Linked DNA regions of Homo sapiens: region 2 is linked to region 1. Evidence: fine-mapped QTL for protein levels in blood plasma. Region 1 holds a variant in brackets. A gene starts in the other region. All regions are shown on their forward strands. Region 1 overlaps CHST11 (carbohydrate sulfotransferase 11). Region 2 holds the start of ADAMTS13 (ADAM metallopeptidase with thrombospondin type 1 motif 13).

What was found. A credible set is the group of variants that fine-mapping cannot tell apart. PIP is the chance, under the fine-mapping model, that this variant and not a neighbour inherited with it causes the effect. The UK Biobank Pharma Proteomics Project read protein levels with antibody pairs (Olink). The fine-mapping took linkage between variants from a reference panel, not from the people measured, so its PIPs are less certain.
Region 2: it holds the start of ADAMTS13, and the variant in region 1 is the best candidate, but not a certain one, in a credible set for the plasma level of the ADAMTS13 protein (UK Biobank, PIP 0.59).

What each region holds. Positions count from the first base shown.
Region 1 is chr12:104,565,009-104,580,708 of GRCh38, forward strand. The region is part of intron 1 of CHST11 (carbohydrate sulfotransferase 11); the gene reads left to right. Among named protein-coding and RNA genes, the nearest start is that of MIR3922, 19 kb to the right of the region's middle. RefSeq lists enhancers at 1,159-1,218, 4,962-5,051, 15,107-15,216. The variant TACTAAG/T (reference allele first, on the strand shown) is at 12,014.
Region 2 is chr9:133,416,250-133,424,249 of GRCh38, forward strand. ADAMTS13 (ADAM metallopeptidase with thrombospondin type 1 motif 13) reads left to right here and starts at 6,118. Exons shown (of 29, transcript NM_139027.6): 1 at 6,118-6,299; 2 at 6,852-6,918. The coding sequence starts at 6,195. It overlaps REXO4 (REX4 homolog, 3'-5' exonuclease), which reads right to left and starts at 1,761. Exons shown (of 8, transcript NM_020385.4): 1 at 1,371-1,761. The coding sequence starts at 1,595. RefSeq lists a silencer at 1,506-1,745 and enhancers at 1,856-2,075, 5,273-5,412, 5,643-5,692, 5,813-5,872.

The sequences.
Region 1 (15,700 bases):
CATGTGGGGATTATGGGAGCTACAATTCAAGATGAGATTTGGGTGGGGACACAGCCAAACCACATCAGTATTATTTTCCCCCCAATAAGATAATTTGCCATTCACATCTAGGGTGACTCCAGTGGTGGGGACTCAAGGGCTCCCTGGTGGCGAATGGTGGTAGGTGGAGAAACCAGCTGTATCTACCTCTGAATTCCTATCCTGGAAGGGACTCTTGGGACCACCTGGGCAGCCTCCATGTTTTCTAGGATTTTTTTTTTTTTTTTTTTTTTTTTGGAGACAGTGTCTCATTCTGTTGCTCAGGCTGGAGTGCAGTGGCATGATCTTGGCTCACTGTAACCTCCACCTCCCAGGTTCAAGCGATTCTCCTGCCTCAGCCTCCCGAGTAGCTGGGACTACAGGTACGTGCCACCATGCTGGGCTAATTTCTGTATTTTTAGTAGAGGCGGGGTTTCACCATGTTGGCCAGGCTGGTCTCGAACTCCTGACCTCAAGTGATCCACCTGCCTCGGCCTCCCAAAGTGCTGGGATTACAGGCATAAACCACTGTGCCTGGCCTCTAGGACTTTTGTAAATTGTCTACCTGAGTATTAACCCATGGCTCAGGAGGCCCCCAGCACTAAGACGCTCTATCACCAGTATTTGAGGAGTCTTCAGGCAGCGGGGCAGGGAGTAAGAGACAGAACAAATGCTCCAGGATGAGGAGACCCAGGGGATTTGTGCGGCTCCGGCATCGCCAGCATAGTTGTTAGGAAACCTGGGCTAATTAGGGTGCTCTGTTGTTCTTCTCAGCAGGCCCTTGAAATTGGGCAGACTTCTGGCTCACCTCTTAGAGAGAAAGGAACACTGTGTACCACTTTCTCCCTGTGTTTGCCACAGGGAAATGGCTATGGTTGCTGAGAAGTTGGGACAGAACCTGCAGGCGTGTGCTTACCACGTTTCTTGGGAGAGCAGGGATGGTCTGTGTGGCAGCCACATTCTCACTCCTTTGTGCTTCCCCTTTTGCCTCCATTCCTAGGCCTGTGAATGTTCTAGATTCTCTGGACACACTCAGCCTTCTGGAGTATGTCCAGGCAGCATGACTGTGGCATGCAAAAAACAAGGGCTTGGAAGCCATTCTCTGGCCGTGTGATGTTCATGAGAGTTAACCTGATGACTCTGTGCCTCAGTGTCACTGCTCTAATGGGAATCTAGAATATTCTTCACTGAGAGGTTTTGAGGCTTTATGGTCCCCCATAAATTACTTCTTTCTCTGTTCTTTCCCCTAAGCCCTATCTCAAAGTCTATTCCAGTCCTTATTGTCACTTGTGTGAAATTCTCCTTTCTCTGCTCTTTCTTCTAAATTGCATCTAGCGGTTGGGGTGGGGGGGCGGTCTGCCTACAAAATGAAAGCCACTCATAATGGAAATAATTTTAGACTCACACAGGAGTTACTGTGACTCAACAGCTGAACAAAAACGCTTGGTTTCTCATGCTGGGAGATAGTCCTCCATCCCCACAGGTCCTGGCAGAGGAGCAACTTTGTGACTTTCACCTGAGGACCTGTGGGGTGTGCTCTCAGGGATTGTGAGGGTGGGTTCTGGAGGGATCTTCTCAACACAGACAGCCTTTTTCCTCTCTTTGCAGCAGAGGGACTCCTTTGAACCCATGAGTGTGGCCTTTATAACTCAATGCTCAGAATGTTTGAAAGAATAGGTCTTTAGAAAGTCGAAATTACCCTCTGTTCGGGAAATTACAAACACCTACAGGTACATACACCTCCCATGTTCCCCTAGTGTGAGTACGGCAGACATCACTAATGGATCCCAGCACCTTTCTCTGTGCTGAACCTGAATGGAACCTTAGAATCTTTTCCCCATAGTGCCTGAGCCTGAGAAAATATATACTTTTATAGTTATAGAAATTGAGACCCAGAGACTTAAGTATCTAGTGTAAGGCAGTCTTCTTGTAAGGTGAATGAATATAAATATATATACACACACATGTATATGTAAATTTTATGTTGGCAAGTTTTGCAAATTGTTCCTGATGGAACACCTCCCGCCCAATACATTTAAATCTGAGGTTCTTTATCAGGACCAATTTGCAAAACTTGTTGCTGTCTCTAAAGAATGGAGTACACTATCACACTGACAAAGTAGTGTATCCCTTACGCTTGCCAGTTTGAGCTGCAGGAATATTTGGGAAAATGAGCTGCATGTGTCAGATGGGCCACATCACCTGGAGCAGGCAGAATGCACCTGAGATGGAGGATGACTGACAAGTTGGAACATTTTTTGCTAGGCAAGGAGGTGCAGTTACAAAATATCTGCCTGCTTCAATCAGATCTGGCAGAAAATGCAATCCTTTCCTAGAGGGTAGAGAAACATTTGTTTGAAATGATTAGTTTCTTTTTGGGTAGAAAGGTGTTCCCTGGGTGGATGTTTTATGAGGCTTATGTCTGTCCCTCTCTCCCTGCCTCTTCCTTTATTTCCTTTTGTCCTTTAAGATCCAGCTCCCTTCTCCAGGAATCTTCCCCTCTGCTGCCTGCCCAAAGTACCTCTAGTTCCATTCCTGTTGAAACACTTAATTCTGTCCCCAGTGAGAGCCTCACAGCTCCACCTAGCATGAGCTCTCCTGTGAATTTTTTCCTGTGTACCTGACAATGTTGAGCAAGGATCCAGGGTCACACAGCCCATGAGCTGTGTGCAAAGTTTAGAGGTTGCCATGGTCTGAATGTTTGTGTACCCCCCACAAATTCAAGTGTTGAAACCTAATCCCTAATGCAATAGTATTGGGAGGTGATTAGGTCTTGAGGGCTCTGCCTTCATGAATGGAATTAGTGCCCTTATAAAAGAGGCCTGAGGGAGCCTCTTCACCCCTCTGCCATGTGAAGACACAGAAGGCATCACTGTTTGGTGCCTTGCCAGACACCGAATCTGCTATTGCTTTGATCTTGGACTTCCCAGCCTCCAGAACTGTGAGCAATACATTGATAAATTCCTTAGTCTAGGATATTTTGTTATAGCAGCAGGAGTAGACTAAGACAGAGATACCAAGTTTGTCTGTGGATTTGTGGCTTCCCAGGGCAGGTGAGCCTGGAGGAAGGACTCGTATGTGTGTTGTTTTTCTATGCCAGGAGTCAGAGGTTGGGCTGGGTCCCATGATCAGGGCTGCTGTTTAGGGCCGGGGTCTTCCTGTCTTCTGGCCTTGTGAATGGCCTGGTGCTTTGCCTGGCGAGAGGAGTCAGACTTTCCTCTCTTGCTGCAGTGTGTTGTTGCTGCTCTGCTGTCTAGCAGCTACCGTTGCCATGGAGCAGCAAGAGGTACTGTGCCAGTGGCCCCCCTCCCACTGTCCTTGCAACAGCTCCTCTGTCTGCCTCCTTAGCCCTCAGCCCTGCCATGGGATGGGAACAGAGGAGACTGCAGCAGCAAGTGTGGCTGATTTTAATTGATTTCTGCTTGGTACACATTTACTGATGAGCTGTAGGTCAGCAACTTCCAACAGAGCTGAGATGGGAAGAGAATGGCTGGCTGCCTAGTTGCTTCCTGGGACTTTGAATGGCATCTTGGCATTTTACAAATGTGATCATGGGAGCTGCTGATGGGACCTCCCCTAGAGATACAATGACAGCGGCACCTGTCATCTCTACTATTATCTATAATGTGGCTTGTATTTATCAACTCACTTAAACCTGCAGGCAGTATTATCTCCATTTTACAGATAAGGAAACTAAAGCTCAGAGAGGTTAAGTAACTTGACCAAATTAACACAGTGAAAAAGGGGCAGAGCTGGGATCCAATCCCAGGCAATATGGCTTTATAGTTCATGTTCTTAACCACTATTTTATACTGCCTCTGTATTTCTAAACTAAAAGTTGAAACCTACCATTGGAGATCTTTAAAAATAAAAGTAGGTCATTAGCTCTTTAAGACAGTCTATGTATGTAGCGACATTTATTAAATACTGACTGAATAAAGTACCTAAGAGTATGCCAGGTACTCTTCTAGTTGCTCTCATGTATTAGCTCATTAATCCCCACAACACTCCTGAGAGGTAAGTATTATTATTTTCATCCCCATTTTGCAGAGGAGAAAACTGAGGCATGGAGAGGGTTAGTATCCACGGTCACAGAGCCAGGATGTGACAGGACTGGAACCCAATTGTCTGGCTCTAGATTCTAAATAAAAGTGAAACTACTAGCTTATGAAACAAAATTTGACAAACCTCTCAACTTGGTTATTCTGACGGAAGAAATTCTAGGAATAGAGAACCCTCCTGGAGTTACCGTCTTAGTTACTAGAGCTCAGTTTGTGAGACTCCATAGCTTTTCAGAATATTTTATATTCTGAATAAAAAAATGCACACAACAAAAACAACCAGATACATTTGTTCAAAGGAACGATCCTCAGGATTTGTGGACAGTTCACTTCGAGACCAGTGTCTCTTACAATCTCAGTTTTCTGTCCTGAGCAGTTACCTTCAAAACTTAGGGGAAGAGCTCAGAGGATGTCTGAGTCCATTTTGCATCTTCATCACACAGAGCTCTGTGGCTGAGTGCATCATAGCTCTTAGGTACAGCAGACCTATTGGATTGATCAGCAGCAGAACTGTTATGCCTGGGGTAAGAACATAATGAAGTGGGGGAGATTCCAAGCTAGGAATTTGGGGCCCAGATTCTAGGGGATGCCTCCAGGGTTTTCAGGCTGCACCTTCTCCATTGATCTGCCCAGTTTATGGAGCCACAGGGGAATAAGTCCTGCTATTGAAGGTGATGTTGGTGCAGGTGGTATTGGGGTGGCACCATTGACCATGCTGCACTGGGAGTCCCCAACCCTGGGCTTTCCCTTTTGAGGTTCAGTGTAGGCTCTTGATTCTGCTTCATAATCTTACTTTACAGTTGGAGGAAGAGGACGGGTTGCGAAAGGAACTTCCTTTGCATGCGGTCAGAGTGCTGGGCCATCTGAACAGCCCCCTCCACGGTCTGCAACATTTCTACATTCTGATAGAAACAGTTAGTGGTCTTGACGTGTCTGACAACCTACAAAACCAACATATCCTGGGGTTTGATCTCTCTGGTGGTGTCAGAGGAGTCCAAAGTGAGCATCTGTAAGCTCGGCTGTGATCCAGCCTATTTGGGAGGATCTGTATTAAACCAGTGACTGCCCTCCCCACCCCACCTCTACTCCTAAAGGGTTCTGTTTCACAAGAGCCAGGCTCAGGTACCTGTTTTTCTCCACCCACACCTTGTTTATTCCTCTTTTCCTCACTGTCTTCGTTGTTGTTCTTGTTGTATATGAGAAAATCGACTCATTTTTAACATTTCGCAAGCCTCCCCCTCCCACTAGTAGGTGTGTGAGCAGCTGCAGATTTTACCGTCTGTAAACCTTCCACACTCCAGCAGATCCTCTTTCCACCTTTCAGCACTGTGCAGCCCACCCAAGCCACGTGCCTTCTTGGTGTCCCATCTATGCCTCTCTCTGAAATCAGGAACCAAGCTCACTGGGGATGAGCATGGCAGGACCTCAGGAAGAAGCCTACTCCTTTCCTTCCTGCAAGAAAATGTGCCAGGCATTTAGTATTAGGGATACAGAAGTGGATACACAAGATTCTTGCCTTCAAGCAACTCGGGAATTTAGAAGGAATAGCAACAGTATTAACAATTGCTACCATTTATTCAGTTTCAGTATATGTAAGCCACTGCACTTTTTTTTTTTTTTTGAGACTGAGTCTCGCTCTGTCACCCAGGCTAGAGTGCAGTGGCGTGATCTCTGCTCACTGCAGTCTCTCCCTCCCAAGTGCAAGTGAATCTCCTGCCTCAGCCTCCTGAGTAGCTGGGATTACAGGCGCCTGTCACCACACCCGGCTATTTTTTGTATTTTTAGTAGAGACGGAGTTTCGCCATGTTGACCAGGCTGGTCTCGAACTCCTGACTGCTGGTGATCCACCCACCTTGGCCTCCCAAAGTGCTGGAATTACAGGCGTGAGCCACCTCACCCAGCGCACTGTGCTTTTCCTGAATGATATCATCTAATAATTCTCAAAACCAGCCTGGAACGTAGGAATTCTTGTTTTCATCTTGGAGATGAGAAAATGGCAGAGAGGATAAGTTAATCAGCTGAGGTCACATAGCTAGCAGGTGGTGGACTCAGTAGTTTGTCTTTGGAGGACAGACAATTTTTTTTTTTTTTTTGAGATGGAGTTTTGCTCTTATTGCCCAGGCTGGAGTGCAATGGCCCGATCTCAGCTTACTGCAACCTCTGCCTCCTGGGTTCAAGCGATTCTCCCACTTCAGCCTCCCAAGTAGCCGGGATTACTGGCATGTGCCACCATGCCTGGCTAATTTTGTATTTTTAGTAGAGATGGGGTTTCCCCCTGTTGGTCAGGCTGGTCTTGATCTCCTGACCTCAGGTGATCCGCCCGCTTCGGCCTCCCAAAGTGCTGGGATTACAGGTCTGAGTCCTGCACCCGGCGACAGACAATATTATTAAGAACAATGTTGACTGAACGCCTCCAGCGTCCCACTTGTCAGTGCTTGTAGACACAGGCTTTCAGTCTCCTGAAGTGCTGTGGACACTTTGATCAGAGAGGGTCATGGCTTGTGAGGATCACCACACAAGAGGAAGTGGCAGCTCAGGTCTGATGATGAAGTTTGTCTGACTCCAGACCTTTCTGGCTCCTAACCCCTGGACCGTATCACCTCTCATCAAAACAGTGCAAGATGTATTATCAAATCCAGCCACTGGTTAGACTAGAAAAAGGAGCTATTAGGAGTGGTGACAGAGGGCATCCCTGTCTTGTGCCGGTTTTCAAAGGGACTGCTTCCAGTTTTTGATCATTCAGTATGATATTGGCTGTGGGTTTGTCATAGATAGCTCTTATTATTTTGAGATACGTCCCATCAATACCTAGTTTATTGAGAGTTTTTAGCATGAAGGGTTGTTGAATTTTGTCAAAGGCCTTTTCTGCATCTATTCAGATAATCATGTGGTTTTTGTCGTTGGTTCTGTTTATATGCTGGATTATGTTTATTGATTTGCATATGTTGAACCAGCCTTGCATCCCAGGGATGAAGCCCACTTGATCATGGTGGATAAGCTTTTTGATGTGCTGCTGGATTCGGTTTGCCAGTATTTTATTGAGGATTTTTGCATCGATGTTCATCAGGGATATTGGTCTAAAATTCTCTTTTTTTGTTGTGTCTCTGCCAGGCTTTGGTATCAGGATGATGCTGGCCTCATAAAATGAGTTAGGGAGGATTCCCTCTTTTTCTATTGATTGGAATAGTTTCAGAAGGAATGGTACCAGCTCCTCCTTGTACCTCTGGTAGAATTCGGCTGTGAATCCGTCTGGTCCTGGACTTTTTTTGGTTGGTAAGCTATTAAGTATTGCCTCAATTTCAGAGCCTGTTATTGGTCTATTCAGAGATTCAACTTCTTCCTGGTTTAGTCTTGGGAAGGTGTATGTGTCAAGGAATTTATCCATTTCTTCTAGAATTTCTAGTTTACTTGCATAGAGGTGTTTATAGTATTCTCTGATGATAGTGTGTATTTCTGTGGGATCGGTGGTGATATCCCCTTTATCATTTTTTATTGCATCTATTTGATTCTTCTCTCTTTTCTTCTTTATTAGTCTTGGTAGCAGTCTATCAATTTTGTTGATCTTTTTAAAAAAACTAGCTCCTGGATTCATTGATCTTTTGAAGGTTTTTTTGTGTCTCTGTCTCCTTCAGTTCTGCTCTGATCTTAGGTATTTCTTGCCTTCTGCTAGCTTTTGAATGTGTTTGCTCTTGCTTCTCTACTTTTTAATTGTGATGTTAGGGTGTCAGTTTTAGATCTTTATTGCTATTCAACATAGTGTTGGAAGTTCTGGCCAGGGCAATCAGGCAGGAGAAGGAAATAAAGGGTATTCAATTAGGAAAAGAGGAAGTCAAATTGTCCCTGTTTGCAGATGACATGATTGTATATCTAGAAAACCCCATCGTCTCAGCCCAAAATCTCCTTAAGCTGATAGGCAACTTCAGCAAAGTCTCAGGATACAAAATCAATGTGCAAAAATCACAAGCATTCTTATACACCAATAACAGACAGAGAGCCAAATCATGAGTGAACTCCCATTCACAATTGCTTCAAAGAGAATAAAATACCTAGGAATCCAACTTACAAGGATGTGAAGGACCTCTTCAAGGAGAACTACAAACCGCTGCTCAATGAAATAAAAGAGGATACAAACAAATGGAAGAACATTCCATGCTCATGGATAGGAAGAATCAATATCGTGAAAATGGCCATACTGCCCAAGGTAAGTTATAGATTCAGTGCCATCCCCATCAAGCTACCAATGACTTTCTTCACAGAATTGGAAAAAACTACTTTAAAGTTCATATGGAACCAAAAAAGAGCCCGCATTGCCAAGTCAATCCTAAGCCAAAAGAACAAAGCTGGAGGCATCACGCTACCTGACTTCAAACTATACTACAAGGCTACAGTAACCAAAACAGCATGGTGCTGGTACCAAAACAGAGATATAGACCAATGGAACAGAACAGAGCCCTCAGAAATAATGCCATACATCTACAACTATCTGATCTTTGACAAACCTGACAAAAGCAAGAAATGAGGAAATGATTCCCTATTTAATAAATGGTGCTGGGAAAACTGGCTAGCCACATGTAGAAAGCTAAAACTGGATCCCTTCCTTACACCTTATACAAAAATTAATTCAAGATGGATTAAAGACTTAAATGTTAGACCTAAAACCATAAAAACCCTAGAAGAAAACCTAGGCAATACCATTTAGGACATAGGCACAGGCAAAGACTTCATGTCTAAAACACCAAAAGCAATGGGAACAGAAGCCAAAATTGACAAATGGAATCTAATGAAACTAAAGACCTTCTGCACAGCAAAAGAAACTACTATCAGAGTGAACAGGCAACCTACAGAATGGGAGAAAATTTTTGCAATCTACTCATCTGACAGAGGGCTAATATCCAGAATCTACAATGAACTCAAACGAATTTACAAGAAAAAAACAAACAACCCCGTCAACAAGTGGGCGAAGGATATGAACAGACACTTCTCAAAAGAAGACATTTATGCAGCCAAAAGACACATGAAAAAATGCTCATCATCACTGGCCATCAGAGAAATGCAAATCAAAACCACAGTGAGATACCATCTCACACCAGTTAGAATGGCAATCATTAAAAAGTCCGGAAACAACAGGTGCTGGAGAGGATGTGGAGAAATAGGAACACTTTTACACTGTTGGTGGGAGTGTAAACTAGTTCAACCATTGTGGAAGTCAGTGTGGCGATTCCTCAGGGATCTAGAACTAGAAATACCATTTGACCCAGCCATCCCATTACTGGGTATATACCCAAAGGATTATAAATCATGCTGCTATAAAGACACATGCACACATGTTAATTGTGGCACTATTCGCAATAGGAAAGACTTGGAGCCAACCCAAATGTCCAACAATGATAGACTGGATTAAGAAAATGTGGCACATATACACCATGGAATACTATGCAGCCATAAAAAATGATGAGTTCATGTCCTTTGTAGGGACATGGATGAAGCTGGAAACCATCATTCTCAGCAAACTATCGCAAGGACAAAAAACCAAACACCGCATGTTCTCACTCATAGGTGGGAATTGAACAATGAGAACACTTGAACACAGGAAGGGGAACATCACACACTGGGGTCTGTTGTGGGGTGGGGGTTGGGGGAGGGATAGCATTAGGAGATATACCTAATGTAAATGACGAGTTAATGGGTGCAGCACACCAACATGGCACATGTATGCCTATGTAACAAACCTGTACATTGTGCACATGTACCCTAAAACTTAAAGTATAATTAAAAAAAAAGAAAAAAAGAAAGAAAAAGGAACTATTAAAAATGACTGTAGAGGCCGGGCGTGGTGACTCATGCCTGTAATCCCAGGTCTTTGGGAGGCCAAGGCAGGTGAATCATTTGAGTTCACTAGTTCAAGACCAGCCTGGCCAACATGATGAAACCCCATCTTTACTGAAAATACAAAGAAATGAGCCGGCGTGGTGGCATGCACCTGCAATTCCAGCTACTCAGGAGGCTGAGGCACAAGAATTACTTGAACCCAGGAGGCAGAGGTTGCAGTGAGCCGAGACTGTGCCACTGCACCCCAGCCTGAGTTACAGAGTGAGATCCTGTCTCAAAAAAAAAAAAAGAGTGTAGGACCACAGGCCCACAGGCATAAACTGGGATGATCCCAGGGTGACGGGGCTTTGTGTTTGCCCTAAACAGGATACACAATCCAGTAAACAAGTATTTTCTGAGTGTCTGCTGTGTGCCAGACAGTGTTCTTGCTATGAACAGAAAAGGCCCCAGGAGCTTGCCATTAAGGGATGCAGGAGGAACTGGGGACAGGGATGAGGCCATGTCAGGTGGGGACAGTGCTCTGAGGAAGACATGAAAGGTAGTGGCATTGCAGGGATGAGGGTGCCAGGAAGGCCTCTGCGAGTCCTCTGTGATAATCCGGGTGAAGGGGGTCTTAACTTAGACAACTGATAGGCAAAGAAAGGCCTGGGAGCAGGAACATCTGTCCGTTTGAAGGAAGTTTCCTGGGTGTGTTCTGAGTGAGCTGCTGAGTGGCCAGCAGGTGCTGTTCTGTGGGGTTGGGTGGAGTGCAGGTTGCAGCCTGGCCTGCATGAGCCAGCTGTCAGGGTAAAGGATGCCGAGCCACAGAGTGGTCCTCTTCTGAAGGAGGCTGTTCTGCAGGCAACAGGTTTGGAGGCCACTGCTTCGTCAGAAGGGCCCGTCCTGCCCTTTCCTACTTCGGCAGTGCTCAGAAATTGCTTATCGGGGTATTCCTTGGTCTCTGCCTGGGGAGTAGAGGAACTCAACATTGTAAATAAAAGGGTTAGCTTCTTCAAAATTCATTCTTGTCTTCTATTGTTAGAAACCAAAGCTCATGCACGAATGCCACCCACCCTGTGATTACAAACCATGGCCCTCGGGTGGGTGGGTGGCATGTGTGCATGAGCTTTGGTCTCTAAAATAGAAGTGTGAGAACTGTTCTCTCTTATGCCTGTTCCCTCCCAAGTACAGTATATCCATGTCAACTTACTCACAGGCGTGATGGTGGTTCACGTTAAGTATTCACTGTGCTTCTCAGTGGCAGGAGAGCTTTTCTTGCCTTAGCCTACTGTGTCCTCCCAGGAACTCTATGAACTAAGTACTGTGTTTATTCCTGCTTTCAAGATGTGGAAGCTGAGACCCAGAGAGGTGAAACCTAAGGAGCCCAAGGTCACACGCTTGGAAGAACAGGGGCTGGAATCCCTGACACAGTGGGCCTAGCGGAAGCCAGGGCAGGTATTAGCAGGCCCATTTTGCAGAGGGGAAGACTGAGGTGCAGTGATGCAAAATGTGTGGTGGAGGGCTGGGCCTGGAATCTGGGAGTTCTGGTTCCGGGTGACCGTCCACTAGAAAGGGAAAGGTGGCAGAACCATATATATGAGCCTGTTACTTGTTCAAGGACTTGGTCAGGGGCCTCACAGAACTTGGAAAAGAGCAACGGACTCTTCAGAGAAGTTCTTCAGAGAAGAGCTCTGAACTGGAGAGCAAGAGCTGGGAGCACCTCCCATGGCTGCAGTCTCTGGTCATTTCCAAAGCCCAGGAGAAGGCTGCATTTGGTCAACCACCCACTTCCATTTAGCCAGGGCCTTTAAATCATTCCCAAATCCTTAAAAATCACCTGGAATGTGTTTAAAAGGGCAGATTTCTGGGCCTCGAGATAGGCCTATTGAATCCGGATCTGGATTTTGGGGGCCTAGGAATCTGCATTGACACCACTCCAGGCTGCGCTGAGGGACATTCACGTTCCTCCAACATTCATGTTGCCATTAAGGGATGGAGGAGGAACTGGGGACAGGGATGAGGCCATGTCGGGTGGGGACAGTGCTCTGAGGAAGACATTCAGGGTGGTGGCATTGCAGGGGTGAGGGTGCCAGGAACATTCATATTGGAGAATCCCTGGACCTCGG[TACTAAG/T]ACTCCAGAGGGGTGGAAATGACTGTGGGTTCAGTCTAAGGCTCCAGGTGGGGTGCTTCAACAAAAGACCATGGTCACTCAGGGCCAGGGCAAAGGTTATTATCAGCAGCCCCAGACACTTTGGGGACGTGCTGGAAATATCTGCCTGACAGAGTGTTTCTGTTTTGCACCGGTATGATTCGTGTATCTGAGGGCTGCAGCCCTTCATTTTTTTTTTTTTTTTTTTTTTTTTTTTGGTATTTAAGAAAATGGTAAAATACACATAACATAAAATTTACCATTTTAACCATTTTTAGTGTACAGTTCAGTGGCATGAAGTACATTCACGTTGTGTTCATGCAGCCCAAACTTGAGAGCTCTTTTTGGAACACTCCAGGAAAGAAGGGCTGTGTACACACTAGGTGCTTAATAAGTGCTTTCAGATGACAGTGGGGTGGTGGGATTATCGGGGTGGTAGGCTACATTATCATGGATTAAGTAAGCATTCCCACTCTGTACTTTCTTAGGCAACTTAACTTCAGTCTGTAATGCTGAGGCAGACACTAGTGAGCTACGTTTAACACTTCATTTCTATTTCTGGGTGAAGCAGGATGATGAGTTCATTGTCTGGTCAATGCCAAGGGCAACTTCCCCTGCTTTCCTAGGCTCCCATGGCAGAATAGAGGATATCTGTGAAAAATCCAAATTTTCCTCCTATGTGTGTGTCGGGTAAGGGCAGCCCACAGTTATGACTGGGGCTCCAGTTTCAAATGCCGCTGACTCAAGACCGATCTGGTTGAGAACCAAACAAATGGGCCTTTTTATACTGAAGAGGAGATTTTTCTTACCACGTGTCAACAAAAGATCTGTAGACAATCTTGTTATACATTTCACACTGCTGACTTCATAAGTACAACAGCACTCACGACCCCTTTACATTTTTTGGTGTATTTGGGTTTATTTCTGTGGTTACCATGCACTGAGGGAAGTCCACAAAAGCCAGCCTGTTCAGGGCTGGAGCACGGTGCCAGTGGAATTTTGGTGAACTTCACAGCGGTAGAAGGGAGTGGACTGGGAGGTGCAGAAGTAGTGAATTTTGCAGCCGGAAGGAATCTTATATAGACTAAATCCCCCCTTATTTATAGATGAGGATATCAAGACCCAGCAACAGGGGGTGGTTCTGACCTGAGGTCACATCGCTGGTTAGGATCTCAGCCCATCACTGACTTCCTGGTCTCCAGACCCATTGACTTGCCACTGCTCGGATCTTCCCAGTCGTTGAACCCCGAGTTCCGTTGAACTAGATGCCTTGTAATATAATACACCTAACGATAAGTTTTCCTGAATTGAATATTCTTCCGAAAATCATTTATAGATTTGGTGACTTCTCCATTTTTCTTTTCCTGCATTTGGGTAGAATCAATCTTTGGCTCTGAGCAGATCTTTCTGTTTGAGTGTCTTTCCTAAGATCTTTATCTTTCTGGTTGCATTTTCAGAACCCCCTGCCTCTATTGTGATGAGAGCGCTGGGTCCGTTGGCTGTCTCTCTGGGATGACAGCACGAGTTGAAAAGTGGAGAATTGAGTCATCGGCTTTCTGGCGTGGTTTATTCTGTCCCAGAATCCCTAAGTCCTGTCTGATACTATTTAGTCACTGTCCTTGCAGTGTGAAAAGTGATTCACATGTAAGCCATGGAAAGCGCTCAGCAAGCTCTCTGAGACAGGAATTCTTGAGGAGGCAAAAGCCAACAGTGTTAATTGGAGATAGAGAGATAGGAATTCTTGAGGAGGCTGTGAAAAGCCAACAGTGTTAATTGGAGATAGACTGCCATGTGAGAGCCAAACCCCTCATGTTCTCAGGTAAAAGCTAGGAAAATGTTAGGCTCTTGTGACATGCAGTTGTCTCAGCTTCAAAGCTGGATTAATTAACTCACGTAATGCAAAATGTTTGTTGAGGGCCTATTTTGGGCCTGGTCCTACTCAAAGTAGCAACAAAAAGCAACTTGATGCTGTCTTTGACCAGAAGAAGCCATGAGAAGGTGCCCAGGTACTTATCAAAGGGCTTGGTTACATGCCCCTGTTTCCTTGTTACCCTTAAGCAATGAGAGAGAGATGCTTGAAGAAGAGCAGAAGCTCTGCTTGCTCTTTAAGCTTGGCGAGGGTTGGGTCTGTTTCCCCTCCTCCATTCCTGGGCTCCTAGTACCATGTGGTTGCTCAGTGAATATCTGCTCTTTCTTTTTAGCCTTCATGTGGGAGGCAGTTGTTGTGTAGAGGGAATAAGACTAGACTTGGGTCCAATTTACCTGGGTTGAAGTCTTTGCCCCACCACTTTGCTCTTGTCCCTGGACAAGTCACTTGATGTTGCCCAGCCTCCATTTTTGTTGCATCAATAGAGTGGAGATGCCAGCGATTGATCTTGTGACCTTGGGGGCATCACTTAACCTCCCTGACCTTGGATTTCTCATCTTTAAAATGAGGGACACTGAAGATGAGTGTGGAGCACATGTCGGAACAGACAATGAAACAGGCATTCGTTATTATCATTCCCATGTCAGAAATGGGCTACTATCTTACTGTTTTATCTCAAATGTAATTTCAAGAGAATGATACATGGTAACGTGGGTAACTTTCATTTGTCAATGTGTGGATGCGCCGCCCCTCTCCCCGGGGTGTATTCCTCAGCAGCCCGGCAGGGGAGGGCACATCCACACATTGCCTGCTTTAAATCTGTTGCCCGCTCTAATTGTGTAGACCCACTACACCCAACCAGCTTGTATCCCACAGATGGAAGGTAATTTGAATAACTGTTTAAGCCAAAATGTAATTGGAGATAAAAGCTAAATGTCTAAGGTCTAGCAGTATCAAGATGACCAGAAGTGATGCATTGGATCCTCTGCTGCTTCTGAATCATCTGGGTTAATTACCGTACTCTCCACCAGCTTTGGTCATCAAGGAGCACACAGAATCATTGCTTATAATTGAAGACTGTGGACAATGATCACATAAGATCATCCCTAAGTTACCAGTCCCTTTTATTCTAATGGACATTTGAAGAAAAAGGCCTGAACTTTCAATAAAAGCGTCGTCTTTTTGCTTTCAAGGCCCTTCAGCTAGTTCATTAGGGGATTGAAGCCAGACATCATTTGTGACTTTCCCCCTACATTTGGGGAATGGGGGATAGAATATCTTTTGTGGTTTTTGTTTACAAGAAGGAAGATTTCAGGCTTGAGCTGGAGTACGAAAGGAAATTGAAACTAAAGATTGGGTTCTGGATTTGACTAAAGTTTCTAATATTGTTCAGCCACAATAAAGCCAAAAGCGTTCACTGTATGCTCTGGCTGATATAGTAAAGCATGGGCATTTAAGAAAAGGGTTAATTAGGTCAATTAGATTAGATGTTAGGCTGCCTGTTTCTAAATACCATGGGATGTAATTTATTTCAGTGGAGCTTTAAGCCCTCATGCATGGTAGACATGTCGATTATGGATAAATTAAAGGCAAAATAAATGAATATTCAGTATGTCAGACACAATCAGAGAATGGTAGAAAAATATGTAACTTAACTTTCAACCTCTATAACAGCTAGGATTGTGCCCCATGCAAAGCTTCCTGGAAGTTTGGGAGCCCAATTTTTTCTCTCTACTTGTTGTAATTTACTTCTAGGATATAGCTGGGCCAGGAGGATTTTGTCAAGAAATGGGTGC
Region 2 (8,000 bases), not on the chromosome of region 1:
GAGTGAGAACTTACTCGTTACTGAGGGGAGGGCACCAAGTCATTCATGAGGGATCTACCCCCATGACCCAATACCTCCTATGGGCCCCATCTCCACCACTGGGGATCACATTTCTTTTTTAAAAAAACTACTTTTTACTTTTATTTAGAGATGGAATCTCACCATGTTGCCCAGGCTGGACTTGAACTCCTGAGCTCAAGTGATCCTCCTGCCTGGGCCTCCCAAAGTGCTGGGATTACACGTGTGGGCTACTCGGGAGGCTGAGGCAGGAGAATCACTGGAGCCCAGGCAGCAGTGAGCTATGATCCTAACAGGAGGTAGCTCCAAGGGAGCTCCAAGGGATGTGGTAAGAATGTATGAGTGACGCACGTGGAAGAGTGTCTAGGAGAGAGCAGGCAACCTCTACAGAAGTGCAGGTCACTAGGGAGACAGCAGGTACAACACAGCCTTAAAAGCATGGACTCCAGAGTCAGCCACCTGGTTCCCAGCCGCAATCTTAGATGATCTATTTAAACTTTTCCAGCCTATTTCCTCATCTGTACAATAGCGATGATGGAAGTGTCCACCTCACAGTCTTATTGTGGGGATTGCAACACGCATGGCATAGAGCACATGGCAGAGTGCACATTTTTAGGAGCTCAATTAGTATTTACTTCAAGACCGTAAGTGTCGCTAGAACCCCATCACATGTCTGCTATCTGCTTTTCACTTCTACACAGGAATCTTCTTTCTCCCTGTCTTGCTACACAGACCAGTGTGTTCTTTCGTTGTTGTTGTTTGAGATGGAGTCTCGCTCTGTCGCCCAGGCTGGAGTGCAGTGGCGCGATTTCGGCTTACTACTGCCTCTGCCTCCCGGGTTCAAGCGATTCTTCTGCCTCAGGCTCCCCGAGTAGCTGCGACTACCGGCGCGCGCCATCACGCCCGGCTAATATTTTTTGTACTTTTTTAGTAGACACGGGGTTTCACCATGTTGGCCGGGCTGGTCTTGAACTCTTGACCTCAGGGGATCTGCCCGCCTCGGCCTCCCAAAGTGCTGGGATCACAGGCGTGAGGCCCCGCGCCCGGCCTGGTTTCGGGATTTTAAGCTAAATTTCTCTTTGTAAAATCCATTCTAGTTAGTTCATTATGCAAAAGGTACAAGGGTTTATCTTTGCTTTTTTGTACTTGAAATAATTCTTTCATCAATTTCTTTCAAGCAAACAAGTTCGAGACCTCCCTCAACAGGCCACCTTTCTTGTGAAAAGCTGTTTACAAGATTTCGATTCAAATCTGCCTTTACAGGTCTTTTGGGGCTACCCAAGTCTTTCCCTCCGTCGCGTTCTGCGGGAATGAGCTGCGCAGCGCTCCGCCCGGGCCCCCTCAAGCCTCACCTCTTGCAGCGCCTTCCAGTTTTGAGAAAAGTCTTCTGGTGCCTTTGGAGGTCGCACCACAGCACCGGGGCCGCTTGCTGGCTTCTTGCTTACTTCCCGCGCCTTGCTTTTCCAAAACCTTTTTTTCTTCTTGTTTTTCTTCCGAGTGAGCGTCTTGACAGGACCCGGCTTAGCCACGGGGCTGCTCGGGGCGCGCTTGGAGGCGGGGACCTTCGCCTTCCCCATCCTGCTGCCGTCCAGCGCCTGGGCCGGCGGCCACCCGAGACCCCGGCCTCCCCGGGCCCGGCGCCCTGGCAGCACAAGCGCCTGCCCAGGCCAGGCCGAAACACACCCACCGCAGGGACCCCGTCCAGGAAAAGACTCCGGAAGAGACCCCGCACGCGTTGCGCATACCTCAGCACGCACGCTCCAGTCCCCGGAAGCGCTCGTCTCTCCACAACCGGCTGGAAACCGGATCCCTGCCTCTGGTTCCGCGCAGCCTGGGCGGTTCACCCGCACGGGACTTGGGCCGCCGCCTTAGCCAGCGGCATCCGGGGTCATCGACCTCGAGTTTGACTGGGGCAAGCCGAGGACCTCCCCAAGATCCGGGATGGGGATGAGAGATGCGAACGCCGGAAGGGAACTGGGGGGCCGCTGTGTGTGTAGCACCTGGTAGGGCAGCTGAGCTGGGGGCACTGGGCGGTGGGGCTAGTGAGAGCCGGGCTAGGTCGCTCGCCTGCGTCCTGGACTCTCGAGCCTTTCCCGCCTTGGGCTGCTCCTTGCTCAGCCTCACAGCGGCTCATCTTCCACGTACAGTGGGGAAACTGAGGCCCAGGCACCGGGAGGAGTTCCTGCCAGTTCACTCTGTAGCAGGACGAGCCGCAGACAAGAACCCCTCAGACACCGAATTGTAGAAGGAAAGGGCTTTATTTAGTGGGGAGCATCGGCAGACTCACGTCTCCAAAAACCGAGCTCTCTGAGTGAGCAATTCCTGTCCCTTTTAAGGGCTTACAACCCTAAGGGGGTCTGTGTGAGAGGGTCGTGATCGATTGAGCAAGCAGGGGGTACGTGACTGGGGGCTGCATGCACCGGTAATCAGAACGCAACAGAACAGGACAGGGATTTTCACAATGCTTTTCCATACAATGTCTGAAATCTATAGATAACATAACCGGTTAGGTCAAGGATTGATCTTTAACCAGGCCCAGGGCGCGGCGCCGGGCTGTCTGCCTGTGGATTTTATTTCTGCCTTTTAGTTTTTACTTCTTTATTTGGAAGCAGAAATTGGGCATAAGACAATATGAGGGGTGGTCTCCTCCCTTACTTCTGCCGCCTGGGTTCAAGCGATTCTCCTGCCTCAGCCTCCTGAGTAGCTGGGACTATAGGTGCACGCCACCACTCTCTGCCAATTTTTGTATTTTTAGTAGACCTGGGGTTTCGCCACGTTGGCCAGGCTGTCTTGAACTCCTGACCTCCAGTGATCCATCCGCCTCGGCCTCCCAAAGCGCTGGGATTACAGGTGTGAGCCACCGTGCCCGGCCGGGAGTGGGTAGATTTGATGTGCGTGTGTAACAGGCAGAGGTTGATGGAGTAACAGGGAAGTGAGGCTCCTAGGATTTTGGTCTGAGCAATTGGGTGTGGCCATTTATCATCTCAATAAATGTCTGCGGGGAGCAGGGTGAAGTATGGGGGTGGAGCCATGAGCTCCTTTTCACACTTGCTGAGTTTGAACGGGCCGTCAGTCACCAAGGAGAGACGTCTAATCAGCAGCAGGATATAAGATTCCTAAGCTTAGGGAAGGGTCAGTGCTGGAGATGTAATTTGGAAATCGTCAGCACATAATTAGTGTTGAAACATGAACCTGGGTTAGTTCATCCAAAGAGAGAGTACCAATATAGGGAGTGAAGGGTTAAGACCAGATAGCAGGTGCTGGGGGCTCTCCAGGGGCGAAGCAGCAGAGGAGGCTGAGGGGGAGCAGTCAGTGCAGTGGGAGGAGAAGCGGATGTGAGTGGCATCAGAGAATCCAGGGGGAGAATAAACCACATCAGATGCTGCTGAGAGGCTGAGAAGGACGAGGACAGAGAGATGGGAACCAGATATGGCACTGAGATTGTCAGCAAGTCCACCGAAAAGGGTTTTCTTTTTTTTTGTTTGTTTTGAGACGGAGTCTTGCTCTGCTGCCCAGGCTGGAGTGCAGTGGCGTGATATCGGCTCACCACAATCTCCACCTCCCGGGTTCAAGCGATTCTCCTGCCTCAGCCTCCTGGGTAGCTGGAACTACAGGTGCACGCCACCATGCCCAGCTAATTTTTTTTTTTTTTTTGAGACGAAGTTATGCTCTTGTCGCCCAGGCTGGAGTGCAATGGCGCAATCTCGGCTCACCGCAACCTCCACCTCCCGGGTTCAAGTGATTCTTCTGCCTCAGCCTCCCGAGTAGCTGGGATTACAGGCATGTGCCACCACGCCCGGCTAATTTTGTACTTTTAGTAGAGATGGGGTTTCTCCATGTTGGCCAGGCTGGTATGGATCTCCAGACATCAGGTGATCCTCTCGCCTCAGCCTCCCAAAGTGTTGGGATTACAGGCGTGAGCCACCGCACCTAGCCTAATTTTTGTATTTTTGAAAAGAGACGGGGTTTCACTATGCTGGCCAGGCTGATCTCGAACTCCTGACCTCATGATCCGCGTGCCTCGTGATCCACCTGCCTCGGCCTCCCAAAGTGCTGGGATTAAAGGCGTGAGCCACCACACCTGGCCCAGGTTTTCTTTTTAAAAAAGGAAAAAAACTTTGTTCCAGCAGTTTGTAAACCAGGGCAATGCAGCCTTCTGTACAAAGGTGCATTCCAGGGAACAAAGAGAACAAAGAAAGAGGTCGTCTTTTGTAGAGAACTTCCTGCCCAGGTTCCCACTTTGGTCCACTTATGCAAATGAGGAAGGCACACTTGCTTAGTTCTGATTGGTTAATACTTGCTGAGTTCAGATTGGTCGATGCAGGTCACAGTCGATGGGTTGATTCTGGCGGCATAAACAGGAACAGATAGCTGTGAAACCATCCCAGAGTTAAGTGAGAGTGGGGGCTTTCCAGGAACGCAGAATGTGTGTGTGACCCTAGTCAGCAAATGGCTGCTAGGTCCTACTTTGAATTTAGGCCCAGTTAGTAACTTGGGATCCATCAAGAAGGATTGGCTCTTTCAGGGTTCACAAAGTTATTGGTGACCTTTTAAAGATCAATTTCAATGGTATGTGGGAATTGAAGGCAAGGAAGTGGAGATAGCCACTGAAAATAATGTTTCTAAGTTCTTAAAGACAGCCAGAAACAGGGCTATGGCAGGAGGACAGTGTGGGTCAAGGGAAGGTTGTTGATTGTAATCAAGAGACACCAGAGTGTCTGGGCTTGGTGGCTCATGCCTGTAATCCCAGCACTTTGGGAGGCCGAGGCAGTCAGCTCACCTGAGGTCAGGAGTTTGAGACCAGCTTGGCCAACATGGCGAAACCCCACCTCTACTAAAAATACAAAAACTAGCCAGGCGTGATGGCGGGTGCCTGTAATCCCAGCCACAAGGGAGGCTGAGGCAGGAGAATCACTTGAACCTGGGTGGCGGAGGTTGCAGTGAGCCGAGATCGTGCCACTGCACTCCAGCCTGGGTGACACAGCAAGACTCTGTCTCAAAAAACAAACAAAAACCAAAAAGAGACAGGAGAGTCATTCATGCTGATGGAGTGAGCCAGGTACCAGGATCTCGATATCTAAGCATGCCCCCTTCTCCAACAGCCTCCTTACCTTCCTGCATGAAAGCACACCCTTCCCTCCAGTCCCCCATTCCTTTATTCTGCTGTATTTTTCTCCATAACACTTACCACCTTTGAACATACTACATATACAACATGTGTCTGTCTAGCAACTTTGCTGTCTGGCTCTCTTCCCTAGAATTTAAGCTGTGAGAGGCCGAGGCTGCTGTCTGCCTGGCTTGGGGCTGCTTTCCTGGTGTCTAGCACAGAGCCTGGCCTGTTTCAGGGGCTCAGTGAAACATTTGTTGGCTGAAGGAATGAATGAATGGCTCTAGCAGAGGGGCAGAAACTAACGATGCAGGAGGAGAGAGCTGGGAAGGGATCCAGAGCCAGGGCCTGGCAGGAAGTGTAGGTGTGTCCTCCCTGATCGCAGAGGAGGAGAGAGGCTGCACTTTGAGGGGTGGAAAGACAAGGTGAATCCCCCTGCTGGTCATCAGCTTGTGCGGCTCTGTGGGTGTAAAAGAGTGGTTTGGAGCATGTGAAGTGAGTCTTCCAGGAGATGAAGGGGATTGCCAGGCCGTTTGTGATGATGCTGAGATCTGGTGCCGTGCAGCCTGCTTCTGCGACTCTCCTCATCAGGCGCAGGCACAGAGTAGGTGGAGAGTTGAGCCAGAACCACGATGTCTTTGGCACAGCCTCTCATCTGTCAGATGGGAGCGGGGACCCCGGAGAGGGAGTCAGCCGAGGTCCTGGCATTCCTTGTGAACCCCCGTCTGTGGGTTTCTGGTCCAGTGTCCCTTCTCCAGATTAGATGGCTTAGGCCTCCTCTAAGGGGGTGGGCGTGCACATCCGGAGAGCTGTCTGGTGTGCAGGACTGGGCTGCAGGTTACCCTGAACTGCAACCATCTTAGAGCAAGGCCCAGCTTGCAGCAGGAGGAGCTGCAGGCCGCCCACCCTAGCCACGGCCCCTGCCCTGGCAGGAAGCTTCCAAGAGTAAACACTGCCTAATCGTCCCGCCCAGTAGTGAGCAGGCCTGTCCCATTCCATACTGACCAGATTCCCAGTCACCAAGGCCCCCTCTCACTCCGCTCCACTCCTCGGGCTGGCTCTCCTGAGGATGCACCAGCGTCACCCCCGGGCAAGATGCCCTCCCCTCTGTGTGGCCGGAATCCTTGCCTGTGGCTTTCTCCTGGGCTGCTGGGGACCCTCCCATTTCCAGCAGGTGGGCTCATTTGCAGGAGCGGGGGTATTCTGGGAGCCTCTGGGTGGGGTATTCTGAGCTACCTGGGGCGAGGGGAGTGCCAAATAGCTGACTACATCAGCTTTGGGGTTTGCGCTGGGCAGGGGAGTCTGTACTTGGGGCTTTGGGGGATGAAGTGTGCTCACTGAAGAGGGAGTTGGTGTCTCAGTACGACCTGCTCATTCGGTGAAGCTGAACAGACAGATACTAGTTTGTCCCAAACTGTGTAGGTTGCTCTTCTCTGCCTCTCCCTTCCTCTCCCTGTCTCTGATTTCCCCCTCTCCTTCTTGGTTGGCCTCACCCACCTCCTGCCTCCTGTCTCCCTCTTCATCCATCTCTTTTTGTTCTTTTTTCTTTCTCTCTCTCTCTTTTTTTTTTTTTTTTTTTTTTTAAGACATGGGGTCTTGTTATGTTGCCCCAGCTGGTCTCAAACTCCTGGACTCAAGTGATCCTCCCACCTCGGTCTCCCCAAGTGTTAGGATTACAGGCCAGAGCCACTATGCCCGGCCCCATCCATCTCTTTTTGTCTTGCAGAGTTGTCTTCAGGCTTTGGAGCCACAGGCCGTGTCTTCTTACTTGAGCCCTGGTGCTCCCTTAAAAGGTACTTGTCCTGGTGTCTTCTCTCCCGGGGGGAGTTTCTCAGGACTTTCAAGGGGTATCTCACCACTGAGTCAGTGGTCTGGGATTTTTGGTGGATCTGGAAGGAGAAGGTCAGAGAAGCTGCTGTCAACCCTGTTAATTAACTCTGTTACTTCCTGCCAAGTTGATATAAGCTGGTCTGGGTGTTCCAGCCAGGCCAGGGTTCTCACCCTAGCTTCTGTTAAATATCACAAGGGAACGGTCACCGATTGGCTGGCCCCTCCTGCCCCATGGCCTCTGCTGAGCTGGCTGATTTTCAGGAGCTCTTGTGGTTTCTGACCGTGGATGTAAATATTTATTCCTTCTGTGGGAAACAAGATAGGTACTGGCTCAGGCTACCTCCTAAGGCCATGGATTTCCTTATGATAAAGGCCTGTCCCCATTGCCCACAGGCCCATGTCTGTGACCTTCTCCGGTGCGAGCCCCCTTCCCAGTAGGGCCATTGGCAACTTGACTAATGGCTGATGGGGGCCAGAGGCAGGTGGGCTAGTGGTCAGGGGCAACAGGAGGGCAAGGCCCACTTTGTGACCTGGTTCTTTGTGGTCTAGGCCAGAGGCACACTGACCAGTGCCTGGGGCCACGCTGGGGGCTGGATGCAGCCGACGCTGTCTGGGTATCCCATAGCCTGGGTCCTTCCAGCGCTGCCGCTCCTGAAAGGCTGGGAGATCATTGCCCAGGGTCCCTGACCCTCTAAGGGCTCCCTTGGGAGAGGACAGTGAGGGCTGGCCTGGGCCCCTGCTTCCCAAGAGACCACTGGGCTCCACTCGTGTTCAGTTTCCTGTCGGGGTCCATGATGTTACTTGTGAAACACCTGTGCCCAGAGCAGGGTCCAGGAGGCAGGGCAGGGGCTTTCCCCTTTGGGCAGAGCCACCAGGGCAGTGGGAATCTTGTCTTGATGGGGTGACCCAAAGCACACAATAGCCCAACAGCTCCTCCTGGGCCCTGCCCTTTGCGTGCCTAGTCACTAATGGGGTCTGGCTCTTGGGGTGGGGGTGACACGCAATGTCTTGACTTCGGAAGGCCATCCTTCCAAGACCTGCCAGC